Homo sapiens: one gene and its partner. The protein of the gene in region 1 binds, or shares a complex with, the protein of each later gene. Each region holds a gene or a part of one and is shown on either strand. Other genes may lie near its edges.

Region 1 (12,021 bases):
TCCAATTAGTAACTTAAACAACAGCACGCCACAAGAGAACGCTTTATTTCCCCAAACGAGTTCTCCTCACATCTTTCCCATCTCAGGAAATGGCACTGCTATTCCCCAAATTGCTTTAGCCAGAAATCCAGGAATCATCCTGGATTACTTTCTCTTTTACCTCATCACATCTAATCAGAAAGTTATACAGACTCCATCTCCAAAATGCATCCACACTCCAACCACAGATTACCAGCCCCACTCTTTCACTAGGCTCTCCCCATGATGACCTCCTACTGGTCTCCTCACTTCCCCTTCACTTTCCACAGTTCCCTCTCCACAGAAGCCAGAGGGATTGTTTATTTTGTATGTATGTATTTATTTATTTATTTATTTTTGAGACAGGGTCTCATTCTGTCGCCCAGGCTGGAATGCAGTGGCACCATCACAGCTCACTGCAGCCTCAACCTCCTGGGGTCAGGTGATCCTCCCACCTCAGTCTCCTAAGCAGCTAAGACAACAGGCACCCAGCACCACCCCCAGCTAATTTTTGTTTGCATTTTTGGTAGAGATGGGGTTTCGCCATGTTGCTCAGGCTGGTCTTGAACTTCTGGGCTCAAGTGATCCGCCCACCTTGGCCTCCCAAAGAGCTAGGATTACAGGTGTGAGCCACTGTGCCTAGCCTTGCTTTTTTTTTTTTTTTTTCTTTTTTTTTGAGACAGGGTTTTGGTCTGTCACCCAGGCTGGAATGGGACGTCACAATCACAGCTCACTATAGCCTGGAACTCCTGAGATGAAGCAATCCTCCTACCTTAGCTTCCTGGGTAGCTGGGACTACAGATATGCACTACCAAGTTCAGCTAATTTTTTACTATTTTTGTAGAGATGGAATCTCACTATATTGCCCAGGTTAGTCTCAAACTCCTGGGCTCAAGCGATCCTCCTGCCTGGCTCCTGAAGGTGTTGGAATTACAAGTGTGAGCCACCACACCCAGCAGGGATTGTGGTTTTGTTTTTGAGACAGGCTCTTGCTCTGTCACCCAGGCTGGAGTACCATGATGCAATCACAGCTTACTGCAGCCTCGACCTCTCAGTCTCAAGTGATCCTCCTGCCTCAGCCTCCCGCGTAGCTGGGACTATAGGTGCATGCCACCATGCCCAGTTAACTTTTGTATTTTTAGTAGAGATGGGGGTTCACCATATTACCCAGGCTGGTCTCAAACTCCTGGGCTCAGGCGATTCTCTCACCTCCGCCTCCCAAAGTGCTGGGATTACAGGTATGAGCCACCATGCTGGGACTATGTTTAAGCAGGCATCAGATGATATTACACCACTGCTTCCAGCCCTCAAATGAATTCCCACTGCAAGCAGAATAAAATCCCAACTCATTCCCGTGGCCCTGCCCATCTCTCCAACACCAGCACCTGCACCCTCTTCCTCGCTCACTAGCCACCTTAGCCAACCTTCCTCTGTTTTGTTTTGTTTTGTTTTTGAGATAGAGTTTTGCTCTTGTTGCCCATGCTGGAGTGCAGTGGTGCAATCTCGGCTTACTGCAACCTCTACCTCCTGGGTTCAAGCGACTCCTCCCTCAGCCTCTCGAGTAGCGGGGATTACAGGTGACTGCCACCATGCCTGGCTAATTTTTTGTATTTTTAGTAGAGAAGGGGTTTCACCATGTTGGCCAGGCTGGTCTCAAACTCCTGATTTCAGGTGATCCACCCGCCTCAGCCTCCCAAAGTGCTGGGATTACAGGCATGAGCACTGCACTAGGCCAACCTGCCTTCCTCTTTGAATAAAATCATTCCCTTTCCAGGCTTTGCATTATCTACATCCTCAGAGGCCCCCATGCTGCTCCTTGGTAACATTCAGTGCTCAGCTCACATGTCACCTTTTTAGGGAGGCATGACCTGGTCAAAATAGCACCTCCTGCCCACCACACCCCCTGCCATTCCCTATGTCCTTGCCTTGTTTTTCATCCTCATAGACTCTTAATCTGAAATTTGATTTTCTCTTGTATTTATTGCCTATGCTGGAATATAATGTCCACAAAGCCGGCACTGGTGCGCTTTCCTCCCTTAACATTTAGATCAGTGACTGGCAGGTTTTTATTTTTATTTTTTCAATGTTTTGCTAAATGTTTTTTTCAAATGCTGAATGAGAAGGAGACAGAAAAAGGCATTCAAGATGAGGGACACAGCAAGAGTCAAAAGGAGGATGAAAAAGTTTGATTCATTTTAGTGAGTTGAAGACACTAGCTTGACAAAAGCAGAAAAAGCATAGTGGGAAATGAAATGATGTTGAGAAAACTGGAATCAAATTGAGAAAGGTCTCAAATGCCAAGCTAAATAGTCTAGAATTTATGTTGTAGGCACCTGGGAGTCTCTGAAGCTTTTGAACAAAGAAGTGAATCTTAACGGACACCTGAAGCCTTGAATACTACCAGACCCAAATGTATTGGTTTTTCCTATACATACATACCTATAAAAAAGGTTAATGTATAAATAGGCACAGTAAAAAGTTAGCAACAATAACATAAAAAATAAAGCAATTCAGTAAAATAAGGATCACTTGACACAAGCACTGCAACACTGAGACTTACTCCGATAACTAAGATGGTGGCAAGTGACTAACAGGTGGGGAGTGTCCACAGTGTGGACACACTGGACAAAGGGAGGATTCATGGAATGAGATGGTGTGAGATTTTATCACACTGCCCAGAATGGCATGCAATTTAAAATTGACGAATTGTTTATTTCTGGAATTTTCCATTTAATATTTTTGGACCACGGTTGACCATGGGTAACTGAAACCTTGGAAAGCAAAACCATGGAAAAGGGGGAATGCTACATTACGAGAATGGGAACAAGAAAGGGGAGGGCAGCCAGGTCACCAATCATCCAAGAAGATGGTAGAGAGTGAAAGGAAGGCGAGTCCATGGTGATTCTAAGACTTTAAGCCATGTAACTAGGAAGATGGTGATTGAAATGGAGAAATTGGAAAAGAGAGTAAGATTCTGGGCTGTGGTTCCAGAAAATCAATTTCTGGGAACAAAGATGCAGATTAGGCAGCTGGTTCATTAACTCCTCTTCAGTGCCAGAGCACTCAGCAAATCACCACATTACTGATAGCCGACTGTCTCCACCATGACAATCAGTGTGAGAGTGAGAACTGTCACTCACTTATCTCTAATTCCTGGTGCCTGAAATGTTACTATAGTCAAAACTTTGTTAGCCAAATCACTGGTGCCAAGGAGATGGCTGAAACTGTGAGAATGAGTCAGTTCTCAAAGGAAAAAAGAACTGAGCTTTGGGGAGTTGTCTTCAGTTAGAGGCTGGGAAGGAGAAAAGGAGTGAGGAAATGAAGGGGAAATCAGACAGTGAGGTAAGGGAAATTTGACAGAAATGAGAAAAACAATTGTTTTTAAGTCCAACAGCACAATGCAACACTAATAAAAGCACACAGTCATTTATAAGCACACCGAAGTTAGCGATATTTAAATAAAACTTGGGAACATGGAAACATCACTCCTACCATAAAAATTTTGCTTGGACTTTCATCATCATTCACACCACAGGTTCTTTTGGATGCTCGCGATTTTGGTAAATCATCATCTGTATCTACTCCATCAGGTGAAGATAATTGCCATCTTTCAGCAAAGGTGAGTGTCCTCTCATCAGGCGAAGAGGCCTCGCTCCAGGTGACATCATTTGTCATGGCGTGGTCTGTGACTACAGGGAGTGGAGATGCTGACGGTGTGCTGGGTCCTCCACTGTCTCCAGAGCTCTTCCGTGGGGACGGAAAATCTGCTGGAGGTGCGCCGCTAGAGGAGAGCTTACTTTGCAAGAAATGTTTCAAACGAGTTTTTCTAGGAAAACTGTTTTTCATAATGGCATTCCGGAGCTGAGACTCCTCTGCAATCACATACACTCGGCAGCGGCCCCTGGTCACGGCGGTGTAGACATGCTGCCAGTGCTGGCGGCCCGCCTTCCCCACCACATAGACAACTGTTTGCTCCTCGGACCCCTGGCAGGAAAAATATGGTGTGAAGACTAAATGCTATAAAATAGGTTCAGACAGTTTACAGACAAGGAAAGGAGACAAGTGTTCAAAGTGCTCTCAAGCACTTCTACCTGGCCAGACTATTATTATGTGTCCATTTTATGGGTTCCATTTTTATTCATCCTCCAAGAACTCTAAACACACTGCTAAACATGCTGCTAAGTTCAGGTTTCATAGGTCCACAACTGGCTTGTAGAAACCCAGCAGCAAATTTTAAAGACTGCATGCAGTATTAAACCTTTCCTAATAAAAGACTGAAATGATGGTACAGGCTTCATGTGTAAATGTGTTAACCCATTATTACATATAATGGCAAAATATGAAAACTTTAAGTAGCCAGTAATAGGTAAACATATAGATATATTATATATAAATATATGTATAAAAATATTACATGTAATGATAAAATATAGAAATTTTAAGTAGCAATAGGTGAATATATATTATATACTTATATATATAATATATACACAGTTGACATACTATTTTGTGAACATCAGAGATACTTTAAAGCCACATTTTAAAAACCATATATATATCTATATATATATATAGACAGATAGATAGATACACACACACATAGAGAATGGTCAAAACTGTATAGCAATATAGTTACTCTGATCCAAAACAAGTATATAAAAAAAGAACATAGCTATGTACAATGAAACAAAACAAATCACAAAAAAAGAGAGAAATTCTACCAAATTTTTTATTAATGTCTCCAAATGGAAGGCCTATGGATGACTTTTTTTTCTCCTACTTGTCTGTATTTTTCCATTGTTGGGCAATTTATTTCTTTTATCAAGATAAAAAAGAAAACAATGAACCTTTGTCTTTTAACAAAAAATTGGATAGGCAAGAAAAATACTCAATATCACCGTGTAACTGTAAGAAAACAATTTCAAGTTTGAGGGCTATTCTTAGTCCTATATTCTGAGTCAGCGGATCCAGTGCCAACACAGACAAAGAAGTGGTTTGTACCATTATCTCCCCCATTGCTCTGACATTGCTCCTGCCAAAGGAAAAATTGTGGGAAGACAACTGACAAGATGGGGCAAGTAAAAAATACACATCCGCTGCAAATAAACTCTTGCTCAGCAAGCTCTTCTATCTTCGTAGACAGAGAGTTTGAAGCAGCTCCTCAGATTGTAAAAGTTTGATAAATACATCTTTCCGATGTTGCTGGGTCTCAGAAATTGACATAAATGGTATTTGATTACATACATTTCCACAGATATATGGCACCACTCTTCACCTTGGACTTTATATTGTACATTCTCAAATATGAAAATGTCTACCTAAACTCAGCTAACCTAGTTCTTAATTATTAAGCAACACTGAGAAAAATATAGTAATAATAGTAGATATACTATTATTAATACTTAATGGTCTCATTATCAGTCTCCCTGTACCTTCTCTTGCCCAATCCATCATCCTCATGGCAGCCACAGTGATATTTGTAAAATGCAAACCCAATCATATTAGATGCTGCTTAAAACCTCTAATGGCTCGCAGGGACTCCAAATAAAGTCCTAACCCCTTAATGTGTTTGTAAAGCCCTTCAAGAGCCAGCTTGGCCCTGCTCCTCTCCTTACTTTTTTCCCTTTCTTTTCCATGAACCATGCTCCACCCAGCACAAGGGACTTCCAGGTCCTGTCAGCATTCCTCAGTCCATGGCCTCAATTTGGCCCATGTCTGGAGTAGCCGCCCCATCTATTACTCTCCAGCACCCTGTACTTCCTCTATCACAGGCTGGAAGCTCCATGAAGGCAGAGCTTCACCTTTATCCTACTCACTGTTCTTTCTCCAGTGCCTCACTGAGTGAATGATGATTAAAAATTAAAATGTCATGCTACAGGAGCCAAATATCTGCTGTCCCTGGAATTCTGCACTCCAAGATGGTACTTAAGTCTACCTCAGAAAGTAAGACACCTAACTTCACCTTGATAACCTGCTATAAATAATTTCCTCATTGCTTTAAATCTCCCTTGAAAATCAGAACTGTCAAACTGCTTAAGGAAGTAAGTTTCCTATATTTACTTTTAATTATGTATATGTCTATTCTATAAATTGGTTCTACAACTCAACCACTTGTATGAAGAGCCACAAAATCTTCAACAGCTCCCCATTTCACTCAGGTAAAAGCCAAAGTCCTTAAAATAGTCTAGAACAGCACTGTCCAATACAAATATAAAATAAGTCATATATGCAGCTTAAAATTTTCTAGTAGTCTCATTAAAAAAGAAATGGATAGAATTAATGTTAATAATATACCTGTATTTTACTTAAGCTAACATATCCAAAATATCATCATTTTAACATATAATCAATATTAAGTTATTAATAAAAGACTACATCTTTGAAATTCTATATTTTATACAACCAGAACATTTCAATTTAGATACTAAATTTTCATCAGAAATACTTAATCTATTTCTAGAGTTCATAAAATTTGTAGTTGAAAAAGAAGATTCACATACCCAAGTTATTCCAAACATAGTTTTTCCAACATACAGAAGTTTTCCAATGACTGTATCTAGTAACTTTTGTTTTGTTTATTTGTTTTTGTTTTTGAGAGAGGGTCTCACTCTGTCACCCGGGCTAGGAGCTCACTGCAGCCTCCAGCTCCCAGACTCTGGAAATCCTCCCACCTCAGACCCCCGAGTAGCTGGGACCATGGGTGCATGCCACCATGTCTGGCTACTGTTTTGTATTTTTTGTAGAGATGGGGTTTCACTATGTTGCCCAGGCTGGTCTTGAACTCCTGGGCTCAATTGACCTGCCCACCTCAGCCTCCCAAAGTACTGGGATTACAGGTGTGAGACACTGTGCCCAGCCTAGTATCCATTTTTAAAATTAAAATTTAGTTTTTCAGTCACTCTAGCCACATTTCCAGCGCTCAATAGCTACACGTGGCTAGTGGCTAACATACTGGATAGTGCAGGCCTTCAAATGCCCTAGGAGGTGACCTGGCCCCACCATCCTCCTGCCCTCTTTACCTCATATTAATTTTCCTGTCTCATTTCCTGTCAGTCTCCCACAGTGGCCACCTTGCTATTCCTGCTTCTCAACTATACCAGACAGACTCTCACCTTAGAACCCTGCCCTTGGTTATTCCTCAACCTGGAATGCTCCTGTCCCAGATACTCACATGACTAACTTCTTTTCCTTCTTCAAATCTTTGGATAAAATGTTATCTTCTCAATGAGGCTTATATCGACATTCTATTTAAAATCACAATTGCACCCACTCCCACCTCTTTTCCACAGGATTTGCCACCTTCTAACATAACACAGAGTTTTCTTTCTTGTTTTTATTTTTTTTATTTTTATGACTGTGTCTGTCTCTATCCCCTTTCCCACCAAATTTAAGCTTCACAATGGCAAGAATCTTTGTCTGTTTTATAGACTGACCTGTACCAAACACCAAGAACAGAGTCTCACTCAGTAAGTATTTGTTGAACGGAATTGAACTTGGAAGAAACAGTGTGTTGATATAACAATCATGAATGTTCTTAGAGCTAAGAGATGCTACTTCAACCATGAAATAACCAGAAAGATATCTACTCCAACCTCAACCCAGTAATAATAAAGACACCTTTACTCTTCATTCGTTCTTATTAAAAAAAACTGGATTATAAATTTAAGGAAATCTCTCAGAAAATAGAGCAAAGTGATGAGAAGGAAAATAAGACAGTTTGATAAGAAATTTAGGTAACTACTTCTGGAAGTCTAATATGCACATATTAGGAATTCTAGAGAGACAGAACAGAGGAAACTGAGAAAAAGAAAATTTCGTAAAGGTGAAGGATGGCATCATAGAGATCCACGGAAGAAATTCTTCAGGACCCAGAGCCAGAAATATTACACTTTTACTCTCACTTTACCTGGGGAACTTTGGTCTTAAGGGAACTTAAAGCCAAATCTGCAATCGACATTAGCAAACAGGGAAGCGGGCATGGCTGCATTCCAACCACCCCTGGCAAGAACCATTTTATCATCCTTATTTTTCACTTGACATCCTTTCTATATAAACATATATATATATATATTTTTTTTTTTTTTTTTTTTTTTTTTTTTTTTGAGATGAAGTCTCCCTCTGTTGCCCAGGCTGGAGTGCAGTGGCACAATCTCAGCTTGCTGCAACCTCTGCCTCCCAGGATCAAGTGATTCTCATGCCTCAGCCTCTCAAGTAGCTGGGTTTAGAGGTGCCCACCACCATGCCCAGTTACCTTTTTTGTATTTTTTAGTAGAGATGGGGTTTTACCATGTTGGCCAGGGTTGGTCTTGAACTCCTGACTGCAAGTGATCCACCTACCTCGGCCTCCCAAAGTGCTGGGATTACAAGCGTGAGCCACCACACCAGACCCTTTTTTACCTTTAAAAAAAAAAAATCAGCTGAATTGTGGGCATTTTTAATAAGCCATTTCAAATTCTTTTTGGAATCGAGATGGGGTAAGTTAATAAATAAAGCCCCACCCACTTAAAAAAGAAAACAAAACTCTATGCTAATTAATGTTTGTTTACTAGTAGAAAATTTGGGCTGACCTAAATTTTTCTGCATAAAAATGAGGGTTGGGCCGGGTGCAGTGGCTCAGGCCTGTAATCCCAGCACTTTGGGAGGCCGAGATGGGCAGATCACAAGGTCAGGAGTTCGAGACCAGCCTGACCAACATGGTGAAACCCCGTCTCTACTAAGAATACAGAAATTAGCCAGGCGTGGTGGCATGTGCCTGTAATCCCAGCTACTCGGGAAGCTGAGGCAGGAGAATCACTTGAACCTGGGAGGCGGAACTTACAGTGAGCCAAGATCGCGCCACTGCACTCCAGCCTGGGCGACACAGCGAGACTGTCTCAAAAAAAAAAATGAAGGTTGATGCAACCTCTCCATTAAAGCAACATACCAACAGCAGAGAAGGAAGCTCAAAACAAAGAGATAAATAAGAGACTCACTAATAACAGATGAGAATTCAAGGGCATTAAAATAAAGCATAAAGGCAAGTTGCACTAAACTCAATATGCTGTCCTAGAACAGCAAAAGGACATTAATGGAAAAACTGGTGCAATTCGAATATGCATAGTTTAGTTAGCAGTCTTACAGCAATAGTAATTTCTTAGTTTTGACAAATATGCCATAGTTATAAAATGTTAAACACCAAGGAAAGCTGGGTGAAAGGTATATGAAAACTCTCTGTAGTATCATTCCAACTCTTCTGTAAACCTAACAATATTCCCACATAAGTTGGGGGCGGGGGGATAAAAGGTTGCCTCACAAAGATGGAGAGAGAGGATACATTTGTCAAAACTCAACCAACTTTATAATGAAACTGTATGCACATTATACCCCACAAAGTTGATAAGGCAAAAAATAAAAAATAAAAGCTAGTTGCAAAAGTATAGAAACATGATTACACCATTTACATAAGCCTCAGTAACACAGAAAACAATCATATATATTGCTTCTACATGAATAGGAGTGATATATACCAAATTCGGGGCAGAAGTCACTTTGGAGGAAGGCGGGAGGCAGACCCAGGACTAGGGCAAGGCAAGTGAGGAACTCACCTCCAGTACAAAATTTAATGGGTTCCCAAGAAACTCAGCAATCAAGATAAATCAAGACATTTTAATGTAACAGTTTTGTAAATCAAAATTAAGGCACAAAAGGATCCATGATGAACAAAATATCAGAATTTAACCAAAGATAAGATGAGTACAGTGCCATGCCAAGCCATACTGGAGACTCAGGCAGGGAGGGGAAGACCTGAAGGAGGAGACTTTACCTATAATGCCTTTGTTTCTAAAAATAAAGAGAGCTCTGGAGCAAAAAAGAGCAAAAGGGTGGCGTCTTCTCTATTATGTTCTGTACTTTTGTGTATTTTGTTTCCTAATTTTTGTTTGCTAATAAGTGCAACAAAAATTTACGAAAACAATGCAAGGCGCTCTAAGGTTGGTAAATTATTTAAAAGGTTTGATAAAAGTCTCCTCTTACCTGAAAAGTGTGAATAGTTCTTGCCCATGCATGTTTTATGCGACAATATTTCATTAGTTTCTTAAAATCCACAGTTACTTCCAGGCCAGCCATATTATTAATGGTCAAAGATCTTCTCTTTCCAAAAGTTACATCAGTTACATCCTGTCACCAAACCAAAGAACTATTTTGCATACCTTCAAATATGTTCTACGTTCAAATACGTTCAAAGATATTCTATCTTTGGGTCAAACATAAAATATAAGAATTACAATTACCATTAAGAATTTCAAAAGGCTTAAAATTTGCATTTCAGCACAAACAATATATCTATACCTAAATATTTTAATAAACACAAATAGAAGTTTTCAGTCTTTGAAACTTATCTTCAATTTGACTCTGTGAAGAACAGCCTGTTATTTCTTATTTTGAAGTCTATACATTCATTTCTTGTATTGACTACATAAGTCTGAGTAGATTCTTTGCAGTTTACTTTTCCTCACAGCTTTCAGTGAGGGTATCTACACTGTGAGAACAAATACAAGGCAACCACTTCTATAGTTTCTACATTTAAGCAGCAACAAAGGAAATGATGCTTTTTAAAATCTATGTCTCATTTATGCCTTGTTTTTTGTTACTCAAGTACTTCGATTTTATTAAAAATGTTTCTTCATAAAATCTTCTAGAAAATATAAGAAGAAGCACTTCCCAACTCATTTTCTGAGGCCAGTATTATCCTGATATTAAAGCCAGACAGGACATTACCAGATAACTACCCATATCCTTCATAAACATGGATGCCAAAAATCCTTAACAAAAAATCATGAAACAAGAATGTCAACTGATATCATTAGATTCTGAATGAATCCTAGGACAATAAAATAACCAAACATATCTCTAATTAGTTAAAAGATATTATCTTCTGTTTTCACTTACATTTGTTATGAAAAATATCTCTCCATTGCACAGTCGAACGTTACTTTCAAAGTCACGCTTATTTTTAGCAAAATCAGGAAGCGTACCAGAAAAGTCTTCACTACTGGCATCTAGATCATTATTTTGCTGACTTCCAGAGATATTTTCAGGTAGTAAGTCTGAGAGGTATGCATTCCTGGTACAACAAATTTTATCACCAATTCCAAAAACAAGTCTACTCTGATGGTCTCTGGGATAGAAAATGATAATATATAATCAAAGTTTGGAAAGTCTCCGTTTCACTTGTTCAAACATTAACTACTACTCAGACTCGTTTCAATTTTCAGAATAATTTCCACATTTTATTTACAACACTTTCATTCTCCAATGAGCAACAAGAAATCAGGTTCCCATAGCTGTCATCTGATTATTTATACATACTCCCTGCAACGTCTCAAACTCAATGACATTTCCCAGTCAAATTTTTTCAAGTTAGAAATTTTGGCTTAAATGCTGATGTCTCTCTTTCCCCTTATATTCTAAAGGTTAACACAAATTTTGATTTTTTTCCTTTAAAATTAATCCTCTGCTCTCCAATCTCTCTTATCATTACCTTATTTGAGGTCTTACAGCACTTATACACATTTCTATTGTAATAATTATGGCACTATATCAGTACAACAGCAGCAAACTGAAGAAGTGGTGGTGATAGGCCAGCTACTGCGCTAACTGCTTTAGGTACATTATTTCATTTCATTCTTACTACAACTTGGTAAGGGAAATTCTGTGTCCATACCCGCTTTTATAGACGTGGGAGAGGGAAACGACCTGGCCCATCATCACAGTTACTGGGACCCTGGGTACATGGCCTCAAGCCCATGCTTTCTGGCCTCTTGTTGGGCTACCTGACAGATTTTTGTGTAACTTCCCTCAGCAGACAGGCACTCCACCTATACCTTATACATATCTAGGATGTCTATACTTAGTGCAAAGCAGGTATTGGTCAATTCAAGAGAAATGAATTAATTTTTCCTATGTATGACCACAGTGGCTTGTCTACACTCATATTTCTCTGATAGACAGACACTCACTAAGTTG
Region 2 (12,021 bases), on another chromosome or scaffold:
GAGTTGGGGGAGGGAGTGGTCTTATCCTATAGGATGGGGCCTTCAGCACACACAGGAGGAGCTCCAGGAGTTGGCGGAGGGGGCATCTTGTCCTATAGGATGGGGCCTTCAGCACACACAGGAGGAGCTCCTGGAGTTGAGGGAGGGAGGGGTCTTGTCCTATAGGATGGGGCCTTCAGCACACACAGGAGGAGCTCCTGGAGCTGGCGGAGGGGGCGTCTGTTCCTATAGGATGGGGCCTTCAGCACACACAGGAGGAGCTCCTGGGGTTGGGGGAGGGAGGGGTCTTGTCCTATAGGATGGGGCCTTCAGCACACACAGGAGGAGCTCCTGGGGTTGGCGGAGGGGGCGTCTTGTCCTATAGGATGGGGCTGTTAGCACACACAGGAGGAGCTCCTCGTGGGGGCGGTTTTGTCCTATGAGTTGGGGGCTTTCACCATGTAGATGGGAAGGATTGTGCTGTCTGGTAAGTATTTAAAATCCTTTATCTTACTTCTGTGAGATTTGCTGTGATTCAAGCTTTACGCGGGGAAATGCTCTTTCCCCTAACTCTAGGAAAGCAGTGATAGTTTTGATGTGTCTCTGAGTAGATTCTCATGTGTGAGGTCTGTCTTGTATGGATTCCATGTACGCTGATTACATTCACTCTACTATTGAATGTTTGCCTTGTTTTCTATAAAAATCTTCTGTGTTCTTCCTGCTAGTGACACTTGTATATGTCTGGTGTTTCTTTTACAGGCTGATAAATTTGATGGTTCTAGACAGCCCGTGTTGGCTATCAAAGGAGCCCGAGTCTCTGATTTCGGTGGACGGAGCCTCTCCGTGCTGTCTTCAAGCACTATCATTGCGAATCCTGACATCCCAGAGGCCTATAAGCTTCGTGGATGGTAGGTTTTGTGGGGCTAAACAAAGGGTTACTTGAGGCTGGGCTTTGAGAAAAGCTGGTTACAATCAGCATGGGAGCTTTCTGCCAAGCAGAAGCCTTCGTCCCTGAGTGGTGCAGCTTCCGTGTTTCTTGAAGGCATTATGCCTTCTGTGAGGAGGGCTTTAAAGCCCTTAAACGGACAAACCTGTAATCCCAGGACAAACCTAGAGAGTCGGAGGAGGCAATTAGCATGTAAGTGCTGCCTGCTGACCTCGATCCTGCCAAAGGAGGGGACGGCCAGGCTTCAGCAGCGGTGTGCTGAAGGCGCCTTTCTTTCCAGGGTTTAGGCTCTGGGCCTCTGTGGCGTGGGGGAACACATGCTTTCTTTCTCTGTCAAGTCTTTGGTGCCGATCACATCTTCTAGTGTGTATTCACTAGACTCTGATCAAGTGTGGTGAGAACAATGGGCTTTTTGTTAGGATTAGATTGTTATTCCCAAAGCACTCAAGGGATGAGGAGAGCCTGTTAAAATCTCCTCACTGTATCTAGCTTTTTAGGACATTCAAACTCTGTCTTAAAAGAGTACTTCAAACTGAGACACAGGATGCAAGAATTGATGTGGTCAGGGAAAACACTTTCACCCAAGCTTCAATAATTCCCATAGCTGTAGTCTATGGGGGGGAAGTGTGTCAGTTTCCAGCTGTGTCTTAGGATTTAAGCAGCTAAAGAATGAGCTCATTTTACATACTCCTCCTTTGTTTTGAGTCATTTAAACCAATGGCACTGGTGTTTGACCAGTTTCATGAAGCATCTTCTGGAATGTTCATGTCACTGAGCCATCCTCATGAGTAGTACGGTCCACACGTATCTGCCGAACTGCAGGGCCCGTTCATAGTCTGACCAGAACTAGCCACAGATTTGCTTTTTTCTTATTGCTTGATTTTCTTTTAGGCTCTGGAGTTCGACTCCAGGTTAATTGCATTCCCACATTAAAATCGCATTCCCACATTAAAATTGCATTCCCACATTAATGTCTTCATCTTTTACTTGTCAATAATCATGATCCCAGTCAACATAAAAAGCACGGCTGTCCCCAGAATAAAATAACTTGGCATTGATCAAAGACAAGCTCAGTGCATACATGATACCTGGACAAGGATTAGAGATGTTTAGATCTTGGCTATAACAATGCAGAGTTTTTATTGTAAGAAGGGCCGCCTTGACTCCTGACGAGTGATCTTTGGTGGCAAATGTCTCCTTGGAGCTTTTGAAACCGTGAACTTGTGTAGCTAGTAGTGGTGAAACAGATGGATGGGCCTTGCTGTGCCCCTGTGAGGGATTTAGCCGCTTACCTGACAGGAGAAGGCAGCTGTCTGCAGCTCAGGGTAACATCCATTCTGTTAGATGGTCTCTGTTTAAGGAACCTGTTCTTTGTGTGGTTACCCACCTTGGGATGGTATTTGGCCTTTCATCTCCGGCCAGCTCCTCTCCGCCACCACTGTGTTCCCGAGCCACTTTCTCCTTGGCCCCTTTTCCTTCATATCAATTGATGTGTGATCAAGAAGTACAATCAGTTTTCATAATAATTTAATACAAATTAATTTAGCTTCGATATTAGCAAAAGTAAAATTTCACTAAGAAGGTAAATCTACAAGAAAAAAGATAATGCCTTCTGATAAGTTGCTCTGGTTTATAAAATCTTTTGGGCCAGGCACGGTGGCTCATACCTTAATTCCAGCACTTTGGGAGGCCGAGGTGGACAATTGCTTGAGGCCAGGAGTTCAAGACCAGCCTGGCCAACATGGTGAAACCTCGTCTCTACAAAAAATACAAAAATCAGCCGGGCCTGTAGTCCCAGCTACTCGGTGCGTGCCTGTAGTCCCAGCTACTCGGGAGGCTGAGGCACGAGAATCACTTGCCAGGAGGTGGAGGTTGCAGCGAGCCAAGTTGGTACCACCACACTCCATCCTGGGTGACAAAGCAAGACTCTGTCTCAAAACAAAAAAACCACTTTTGGCTTCTGTATCAGGCATAGGAGGCCTTTTATGGAAACACTTTTGCTACCACGGTATATTGGCTGTCCGTTTCCACACTGGTACATTTCGGTGATGATCACCACGCAGCTGCTGCCTGAGAATGAGCATTAGCAGATTAAAGGACTACCCCAGACGGCCACTTTATAGCTTACGGGTTGTTGACTTTCCCAGTTTCTGATTTTAGGCCTGGGGTGGTCTGGCCACTGCCAATATGCAAGGCTAGTTTAAGAAAAGATTCTTTGGTACTTTGGCACTGATTCTCTTCACCACTGGGGGGCATCAAAGCAACTGAGATTCAAAGAAAGGTCATTCCGTTTCTTCAGTAGACTTTGGGCCAGGAGCAGTGCCTCACGCCCTGTAATCCCAGCACTTTGGGAGGCCGAGGGAGGAGGATTGTCTGAGTCCAGGAGTTTGAGATCAGCCTGGCCAACAGAGCAAGACCCCATCTCTTAAAAAAATTTTTTTTTCGAGACGGAGTTTCGGTCTTGTTGCCCAGGCTGGAGTGCAATGGCGCCATCTCGGCTCACTGCAACCTCCGCCTCCTGAGAATTGCCTACAAGTGATTCTCCTGCCTCAGCCTCCCGAGTAGCTGGGATTACAGGCACCCACCACCACGCCCGGCTAATTTTGTATTTTTAGTAGAGACGGGGTTTCACCATGTTGGCCAGGATAGTCTTGATCTCTTGACCTCGTGATCCGCCCGCCTCATCCTCCCAAAATGCTGGGGTTACAGGCATGAGCCACTGCGCCCAGCCTAAAAAAAATTTTTTTAATGGGCCTGGGCATGGAAGTCCCAGTTACTTAGCAGGGCAAAGGTGGGAGGATCACTGAGCTCAGGGGGTCAAAGCTGCCTTGAGCCATGATTGCATCATTGCACTCCAGCCTGGGTGACAGAGTGAAACTCTGACACAATTTTTTTTAATTTAAATATTATAAAAAATATATAATTACGAAGATACCAGCTTCAGCCGACATGACCGTGACCTGTGTGAAAGCTGGGCGGGTGGTGGGAAACCTGTGTCTGTCGCGTAGCAGCAAGTTGCATGTGGAGAAGCAGAAGCATGTCACATCAAGCGCTCGTCATCGTTATTCGTTCACGTTTTCAGGTTTGACGCAGAAGGACAAGCCTTAGATGGTGTTTCCATCTCTGATCTAAAGAGCGGCGGAGTCGGAGGGAGTAACACCAACTGGAAAACCTTGTATGAGGTCAAATCCGAGAACCTGGGCCAAGGCGACAAGGTACCCAGCATTCCTAACCACCTTCACAAAGGGCTGTAAAGTGTGCAGAAGGATGGATTTAGAAACTTGGTTTCCAGCACCAGCTGTCAGAGCCGTAATTCTTACCCGGGGCTGTGACCTGAGCGTGGCATGGGGGTTGAGAATCACTGGCAGAGGGAAGCAGCCAGGTGTGCTCATGGGAATATGTGTTACCCCTCAGGGGACTGGAGGCAGGAGAGTCTGAAGAACTCTTAGAGTCAATTCCTAGAGGGATCTTGGAGCAGGGGTGACAGTCAAGCTTTGTGGTATAATATCACCTGCTTTCGGGTCCACGTTTCTTTCCTGTGATCCTTCCTGCAAATTTAAGCGCCCACATATCAAAAAGATGTTTTTTGAGATGAGCGTTAGTCCGCCTCAGGTCAGACATGAGGCAGTTTCACGGGTGCTGTTCCTGGCTGTAGAATAGTGTATTAACCTCATAGGCTGAGAGCTGCCGGCATTCCCGGACAAGGATTGGCCCTGACATTTGACTTTTAGTTGCAGCTTTTTCCTTTCAGTGTTTGTATTTAATGACCCTCCTCCCATCTTGATCTAAGCCTGTGTTCTGCCAGCAGTTTAGTATTTAGATCATTTATTTCTCCTTTACGCCTGCTCTTTTATTTTCATCATATACAGTGTAGGTTTCATTCCTCCTGTCTCATTTCACTGTATACCCTTATCCATCATTGTCAACAGCAGCTCTTAAGTGCTCTTATAGAACATCTCAAGAATTAAACACTGGACAGATCCTCGTTGTCCTGTCATGGGACACCCACTCTTTCGGTTCTCTGTAATCCCAGCTACCCAGGAGGCTGAGGCAGGTGGATTACATGAGCCCAGGAGTTCGACTGAGCAACATGGAAGACCCCTTCTCTTGAAACAAAAACTTTATTGCTGAAAAATGCTGACAATCATCTGAGTCGTAATCTTCTTGCTGGTGGGGGTTTGTTTCAGGGTTGATGGCTGAGCAGTCACGGCGATGGTTGCTGAACATCGGCGTGTCTTTGGCAGTTTCTTAAAATAAGACAGCAGTGAAGTGTGCCACATTGGTTGACTCTTCCTTTCACAAAAGCTTTCTCCATAGCCGGCGATGCTGTTTGACAGCATTTTACCCACAGGAGAACTTTTTCAAACTGGAGTCTCTCCCTCTCAGGTCCTGTCACTGCTTTATCAGCCAAGCTTATGCAAATTCTAAATCCTTTGTCGTCATTTCAACAATGCTCACAGCGTTCTCACCACAAGAGATTTCATCTCAAGAAAGCACTTTCCTTGCCCATCGTAAGGAGCAGCTCCTTATCCGTTCAAGTTTGATCGTGAGATTACAGCAGTTCAGGCCCATTTTCAGGCTCCATTTGTAATTCTAGTTCTCTCGTTATTTTCGTCACATCTACAGATCCCTCCTCCACCAAAGTCTTGAAGCCTCAGTGTCTACCTTGAGGGTTGGAATCAACTTGTTCCAAACTCCCGTTGATGTTGGGATTTTGATCTCCTCCCATGAATCATGAATGTTCCTTTTTTTTTTAACTTGAGACAGGGTCTCATTCTGTCACTCAGGCTGGAGTGCACTGGCTTGATCACAGCTCACTGCAGTCTCAACCTCCCCAGGCTCCCAAGCTGGGACTACAGGTGCTGCCACACCTGGCTAATTGTATTTTTTGTAGAGACTGAGTTGTGTCATGTTGCCCAGGCTGCTCTCAAACTCCTGGGCTCAAGGGATCTCCCTGCCTCAACCTCTCAAAGTGCCAGGAGTTACAGGTGTGAGCGACTGTGCCCAGCCAACTGTTCTTAATAGCATCTAGAATGGTGAATCCTTTTCAGGTTTTCAATTTACTTTCCCCAGATCCATCAGAGGAATCACTGTGGCAACTATCGCCTCATGAAATATGTCTCTTAGACTTAAAAAGTCAAAATTACTCCTTGATTTGCATGGGCTGCAGAATAGATGTTGTTATCAAGCATGAAAACAATATTAATCTCCTTGTTCTGTGCATCTCCATTGAGCCCTCGGGTGAACAGGTGCATTGTCAATATATTAATCTCCTTGTACTGTGTGTCTCCATTGAGCCCTTGGGTGAACAGGTGCATTGTCAATATATTAATCTCCTTGTACTGTGTGTCTCCATTGAGCTCTTGTGTGAACAGGTGCATTGTCAATATATTAATCTCCTCGTACTGTGTGTCTCCATTGAGCTCTCGGGTGAACAGGTGCATTGTCAATGAGCAGTCATATTTTTAAAGGAGTCTCTTTTTCTGAGTAGTAGGTCTCAACAGTGGGCTTAAAATATTCAATAAACTACACTATAAATAGATATGCTGTCATCCAAGCTTTGATATTCTATTTATAAAGCAGAGGCAAAGTAGATTTAGCATAGTTCTTATGAGCCCTAAGATTTTTGACATGGTCAATGAGCACTGGCTTCACCTTATAGTCCCCAGCTGCATTCGCGCCTAACAGGAGAGTCAGCCTTTCCTTTGAAGCTTTGAAGCCAGGCATTGATTTCTACTCTCTAGGACGAATGTTCTTGATGGCATCTTCTTCCAGAAGGCTATTCTGTCTACGTTGAAAATCTGTTGTTGAGTGCAGCCACCTTCATTGGTGGTCCTAGCTAGATCTTCTGGATAACTTGCTGCAGCTTCTCCATCAGCACTTGCTGCTTCACCTTGCACTTTTGTTATGGTGACGGCTTATTTCCTTAAACCTCATGAACCAACATCTGCTGGCTGCCATCTTTTCTTCTGCAGCTTTTTTTTTTTTTTTTTTTGAGACAGAGTCTCACTCTGTCACCCAGGCTGGAGTGCAGTGGTGCAATCACAGCTCACCTCAGCCTCTGGAGTAGCTGGGACTACAGGTGCACACCACCGTGCCCTGACAGATTTTTGTAGAGACTAGGTCTCACTATGTTGCCTGGCTGGTATCGAACTCCTTGGCTTAGGCAATCATGTTGCCTCTGCCTCCCAAAGTGCTGGGATTACAGGTGTGAGCCACTGCACCTGGCCTCTTCTGCAGCTTCCTGACCTCTCTCAGCCTTCACAGAATTGAAGAAAGGTGAGGCCTTGCTCTGGGTTAGGCTTTGGCTTAAGAGAATGTTGTGGCTTGCTTGATATTCTATCTAGACCACTACAGCTTACTCCATATCAGCAGTAAGGCTGTTTGCTTTCTTATTTGTGTATTCAAAGAAGAGAGACAGGAATACTTGATTGGAGGATCAGTCAGCATACATACAACATTCATCAATATAAGTTCCCCATCTTATATGGGTGTAGTTGGTGGCACCCCAGAACAACTACAATAGTGACGTTAAAGATCACTGTAGGCCAGGCGCGGTGGCTCATTCCTGTAATCCCAGCACTTTGGGAGGCTGAGGCAGGCGGATCACCTGAAGTCAGGAGATCGAGACCATCCTGACCAACGTGGTTAAAACCCCGTCTCTACTAAAAATACAAAAATTAGCTGGGCGTAGTGGTGCATGCCTGTAGTCCCAGCTTCTCGGGAGGCTGAGGCAGGAGAATCGTTTGACCCTGGGAGGCGGAGATTTCAGTGAGCTGAGATCATGCCACTGCACTCCAGCCTGGTGACAGAGCGAGACTCCGTCTCAGAAAAAAAAAAAAAATCACCATAACAGATATGATAATAATGAAAAAGGGCCAGGCATGGTGGCTTACTCCTATAATCCTAGCACTTCGGGAGGCCAAGGTGGGTGGATCACTTGAGGTTTGGAGTTCGAGACCAGCCTACCCAACATGGCAAAACCCCATCTCTACTAAAAAATACAAAAATTAGCCAGGCGTGGTAGTGCACGCCTGTAGTCCCAGCTACTTGGGTGGCTGAGGCAGGAGAATCACTTGAACCTGGGAGGTGGAGGCTGCAGTGATCAGAGATTACACCACTCACTGCACCCCAGCCTGGGCGACAGAGCGAGACTCTGTCTCAAAAAATACATATATAATGAAAAAGTTTGAAATCTTGCAAGAATTACTGTCTTTATGTGACACAGAGACATAAAGTGAGCACCTGCTATTGGGAAAATAGTGCATTTACTTGACCCAGGGGTGCCACAAGTCTTCAATCTGTAAAAAATGCCGTATCTGTCAAGTGCAGTAAAGCAAAGCACAATAAAGTGAGGTGTGTCTGTAGTTGCAGCAGAGACTGTGACCAAATGGCTGCTAAGGCCTGAAATATTTACTGTTTGGCTTTTTACAGAAGCAGCTTGCTGATCCCTGGCCTAAACAAGGAAAAGGTGAATCTAGGCCTAGACACGACTGCCGTGTTTTGAGCGCGGGAGGGATGGTTGATCGTTGCTGCACTGGGTGTTTGTGGTCCGCATTCTGTATTTCCTAGATCTGTGGCCTTTGGAGGGTCAGAGGATCGGGAGGAACAAATCTTTGTCTTTCATACAGTGTTCAAGCAAACAGGAAAACAATTTCACTTTTAATTAACTTAGTGTAATTTAGGATTAACTCTTTTATTGTGAAGGAATTATCTGCCTCAGAACTTGGCTTATTAGAACTTGGCTTATTACCTTCATGGGTTTTGTACTCGGCACATGTGATTTCTAAAACTACAGAATGAATGATTCCCTGTGATCATGTGTAATCTTGAGGATGTAGAAACACTTACCACCTAAACGTAAGGGCAGGCTTTGAGCTGCCTCTCGGTCCGATCCTGGGCGGGCTCGCGACTCCGTGCCTCATGCTGTTCTTTTCTCCCGAAGCCGGACTACTTTAGTTCTGTGGCCACAGTGGTGTATCTTCGCAAAGAGAACTGCATGTACCAAGCCTGCCCGACTCAGGACTGCAATAAGAAAGTGATTGATCAACAGAATGGATTGTACCGCTGTGAGAAGTGCGACACCGAATTTCCCAATTTCAAGTACCGCATGATCCTGTCAGTAAGTAGCCTCGGTAGATGAGAACCACGGTTGTGTTCACGGAGGCCCTCCCGTGTGCCAGGCACTGTGGTCACAACAGTAGAGACAAAGCATTCCTGGTAGGAAGCCCGCAGATGAGTAGGTGTGGAAGAGCTTATCCATCCGCTTTTTCATGCCAGAAAGTGGTGTTGAGATACCCCAGCTGATTCAGTCTTTCATGCACGTCATACAGCCATAGCGTCAGTGACACTTGCCTGCTAACTGCTATGAAGATAAATTAATTTGAAAACGGCATTTATAGACAGCACTAATTGTACTTACACAGCCAATGCCCGTATTTAGTCACTTTCATGTGGATAATCTATTCTCTAGCTTTAGTATAGCTGACTTCAGAGGAATGTGACGGTGTGCTGATGTGAGATTGTTGCTTTTTTGCATTTTAAGAATTGTTTCTTTCTGTTTTAAAAACCTTTTTAAAAAAGTTGTAAAGTTGGGTTTAAAAAAATTTTTTTTTTTTTTTAAGAAACAGGGGTCTCACTCTGTTGCCCAGAATAGAGTGCAATGGTATCATCACAGCTCATGGTGGCCCCAACCTCCCGGGCTTAAGCAGTCCTTCCACCTTGGCCTCCCAAGTAGCTGCAACTACAGCTGTGCACCACCACACCCAGCTAATTTTTAAAATTATTTTATTGTAGAGACAGGGTCTCGCTCTGCTGTTCAGGTTGGTCTCAAGTTCCTGGCCTCATGTCATCCTCCCACCTCAGCCTTCCAAAGTGCTGGCATTACAAGCCTGAGCCACTGCACCCGGCCTTAAGATTTTTATTTTGTTTTGTTTTGTTTTCAATGATAGAACTAGGCGATAATAGCAGTTTAAGAAAACAGTTTAAGGCCGGGCACAGTGGCTCACTTTTGTAATCCCAGCACTTTGGGAGGCCGAGGCGGGTGCGTCACCTGAGATCAGGAGTTTGAGACCAGCCTGGCCAACATGGTGAAACCCTGTCTCTACTAAAAATACAAAAATTAGCCGGGCGTGGTGGCGGGTGCCTGTAGTCCCAGCTACTCGGGAGGCTGAGGCAGGAGAATCGCTTGAACCCGGGAGGCAGAGGTTGCAGTGAGCCGAGATCACACCACTGCACTCCAGCCCGGGCGACAAGAGCAAAACTCCATCTCAAGAAAAGAGAAAAAGAAAACAGTTTCACATTTTTCCAAAGGATGATTTGGCAGTAATATATCAGAAGCCTGAAAAATGTTCATATTGGCCAGGCGCAGTGACTTGTGCCTGTAACCCCAGCACTTTGGAAGGCTGAGGCAGGATGATTGCTTGAGGCTGGGAGTTCGATATCAGCCTGGGCAACATGGCAAGACCCTGTCTCTACAAAAAGTAAAATTAGCTGGCTGTGGTGGTATGCACTTGTCCCAGCTACTCATGAGGCTGAGGTAGGAGGATCGCTTGAGCCCGAGAGGTCAAGGCTGCAGTGAGCCATGATCGTGGCACTGCACTCCAGCCTGGGTGACAGAGTCAGACCCTGTCTTTAAAAAATAAATAAATAGGCCGGGCACGGTGGCTCACGCCTGTAATCCCAGCACTTTGGGAGGCTGAGGCAGGCGGATCACGAGGTCAGGAGATCGAGATCATCTTGGCTAACACAGTGAAACCCTGTCTCTACTAAAAGTACAAAAAAATTAGCCAGGCGTGGTGGCGGGCACCTGCAGTCCCAGCTACTAGGGAGGCTGAGGCCGGGGAATGGCATGAACCCGGGAGGTGGAGTTTGCAGTGAGCCACGATCGCGCCACTGCATTCCAGCCTGGGTGACAGAGCAAGACTCCATCTCAATAAATAAATAAATTAAATTAATAAATGATAAATAAAATGAAATGTTAGCTTAGCAGGACAGTTCTACGTTTAGGCTCATTTTTTGTAAACTATAAACTTTTCATTGAACTAAGATGAAGAAAATTTGTTTTAGTTTGTGGAAACATCAGCCTTTCTGTTAAACTCCACAGCGCAATCTCCCGCACACTTGTTTGATTTGATATTTATCACACGTGTGCGTCATTGTAGTTCTTGCCCTGTGTGATGAGATGCTCTTTGCTTCTTAGAAGGATAGCGTGGGTTAAAGGAAGTGTGAGCCCAGGGTGTGATACCGTTGCTGTGTATTGAGAGCGCTTTTCACTTTTAACTGGTTTCGTCACCTTATTTTTCGTCATAACATTCTCTCTATTAAAAGCCTTGTACCCATGCAAAATGAAGATGTAAAATCGTCAAAATGATGCCTTAAAGAAAAACCACTCGTGTTTCTACAAAGGCTTTTACTTCAGCAAGTGGATTCTTTGAGATCTGCTTTCTTCCTTGACTTTGCCCTGTTTAATGTTACACCACAGCCCAGTGGGAGACATTTGATTGCTCATTTCCTTTGCCAGGTCAATTTGGTGACTGACAGAGGCTCACGGGCAGGCTCTTCAGTTGTCTGGGTGCCCAGCAGTGACAGAGCCGTCTCATGGAACTCCTCCTAGGAACTACAGAGTGGGCAATTGAAAATGCAGAGAACTCCCCCGATTCACTCAAAACCCTTCATCCAAAGCCAGCTGCACCTCGACAGGAACTAATCTGATGGGCCTCTCTCTGTCACCCAGGCTGGAGTGCAGTGGCTCGATCTCAGCTCGCTGCAACCTCCGCCTCCCGGGTTCAAGTGATTCTCCCGCCTCAGCCTCCTGAGTAGCTGGGATTACAGGCACCCGCCACCATGCCTGGCTAATTTTTGTATTTTTCGTAGAGACGGAGTTTCACCATGTTGGCCAGGCTGGTTTCAAACTCCTGGCCTCAAGTGTTCCACCCGCCTTGGCCTCCCAAAGTGCTGGGATGACAGGCATGAGCCCACTGCACCTGGCCCTCTCTGGAAATTATTTTAATAAGTGGAAAAAGAACATTAACCTCTCCCCATCTTCTCAGTGTGTCTTTTTATTATTTCTTTGCTGAAATAATGTAGAATTGTGT

What was found.
Region 2: the proteins of HELB (region 1) and RPA1 are in contact, whole or in part, in a crystal structure (PDB 7XV1), measured with the Homo sapiens proteins. Residues at the interface, in NP_001357214.1 of Homo sapiens: Glu496, Glu499, Val500, Lys502, Ala503, Cys504, Asp506, Phe507, Glu508, Asp510, Asn512, Ala513, Glu516, Trp517, Thr519; in NP_002936.1 of Homo sapiens: Asn29, Ile30, Arg31, Ile33, Arg41, Arg43, Leu44, Leu45, Ser54, Ser55, Met57, Ala59, Thr60, Gln61, Arg81, Ile83, Asn85, Leu87, Arg91, Val93, Ile95, Met97, Glu120.

What each region holds. Positions count from the first base shown.
Region 1 is NC_000012.12:66,323,135-66,335,155, reverse strand, and holds part of HELB (DNA helicase B), read right to left. Parts: intron 11,174-12,021; coding exon 10,945-11,173; intron 10,250-10,944; coding exon of another isoform or gene 10,235-10,249; exon of another isoform or gene 10,174-10,234; coding exon 10,030-10,173; exon of another isoform or gene 9,644-10,029; intron 4,003-9,643; coding exon 3,511-4,002; intron 1-3,510.
Region 2 is NC_000017.11:1,879,805-1,891,825, forward strand, and holds part of RPA1 (replication protein A 70 kDa DNA-binding subunit), read left to right. Parts: intron 1-738; coding exon 739-887; intron 888-4,007; coding exon 4,008-4,140; intron 4,141-8,870; coding exon 8,871-9,047; intron 9,048-12,021. UniProt on the Homo sapiens protein: As part of the heterotrimeric replication protein A complex (RPA/RP-A), binds and stabilizes single-stranded DNA intermediates that form during DNA replication or upon DNA stress.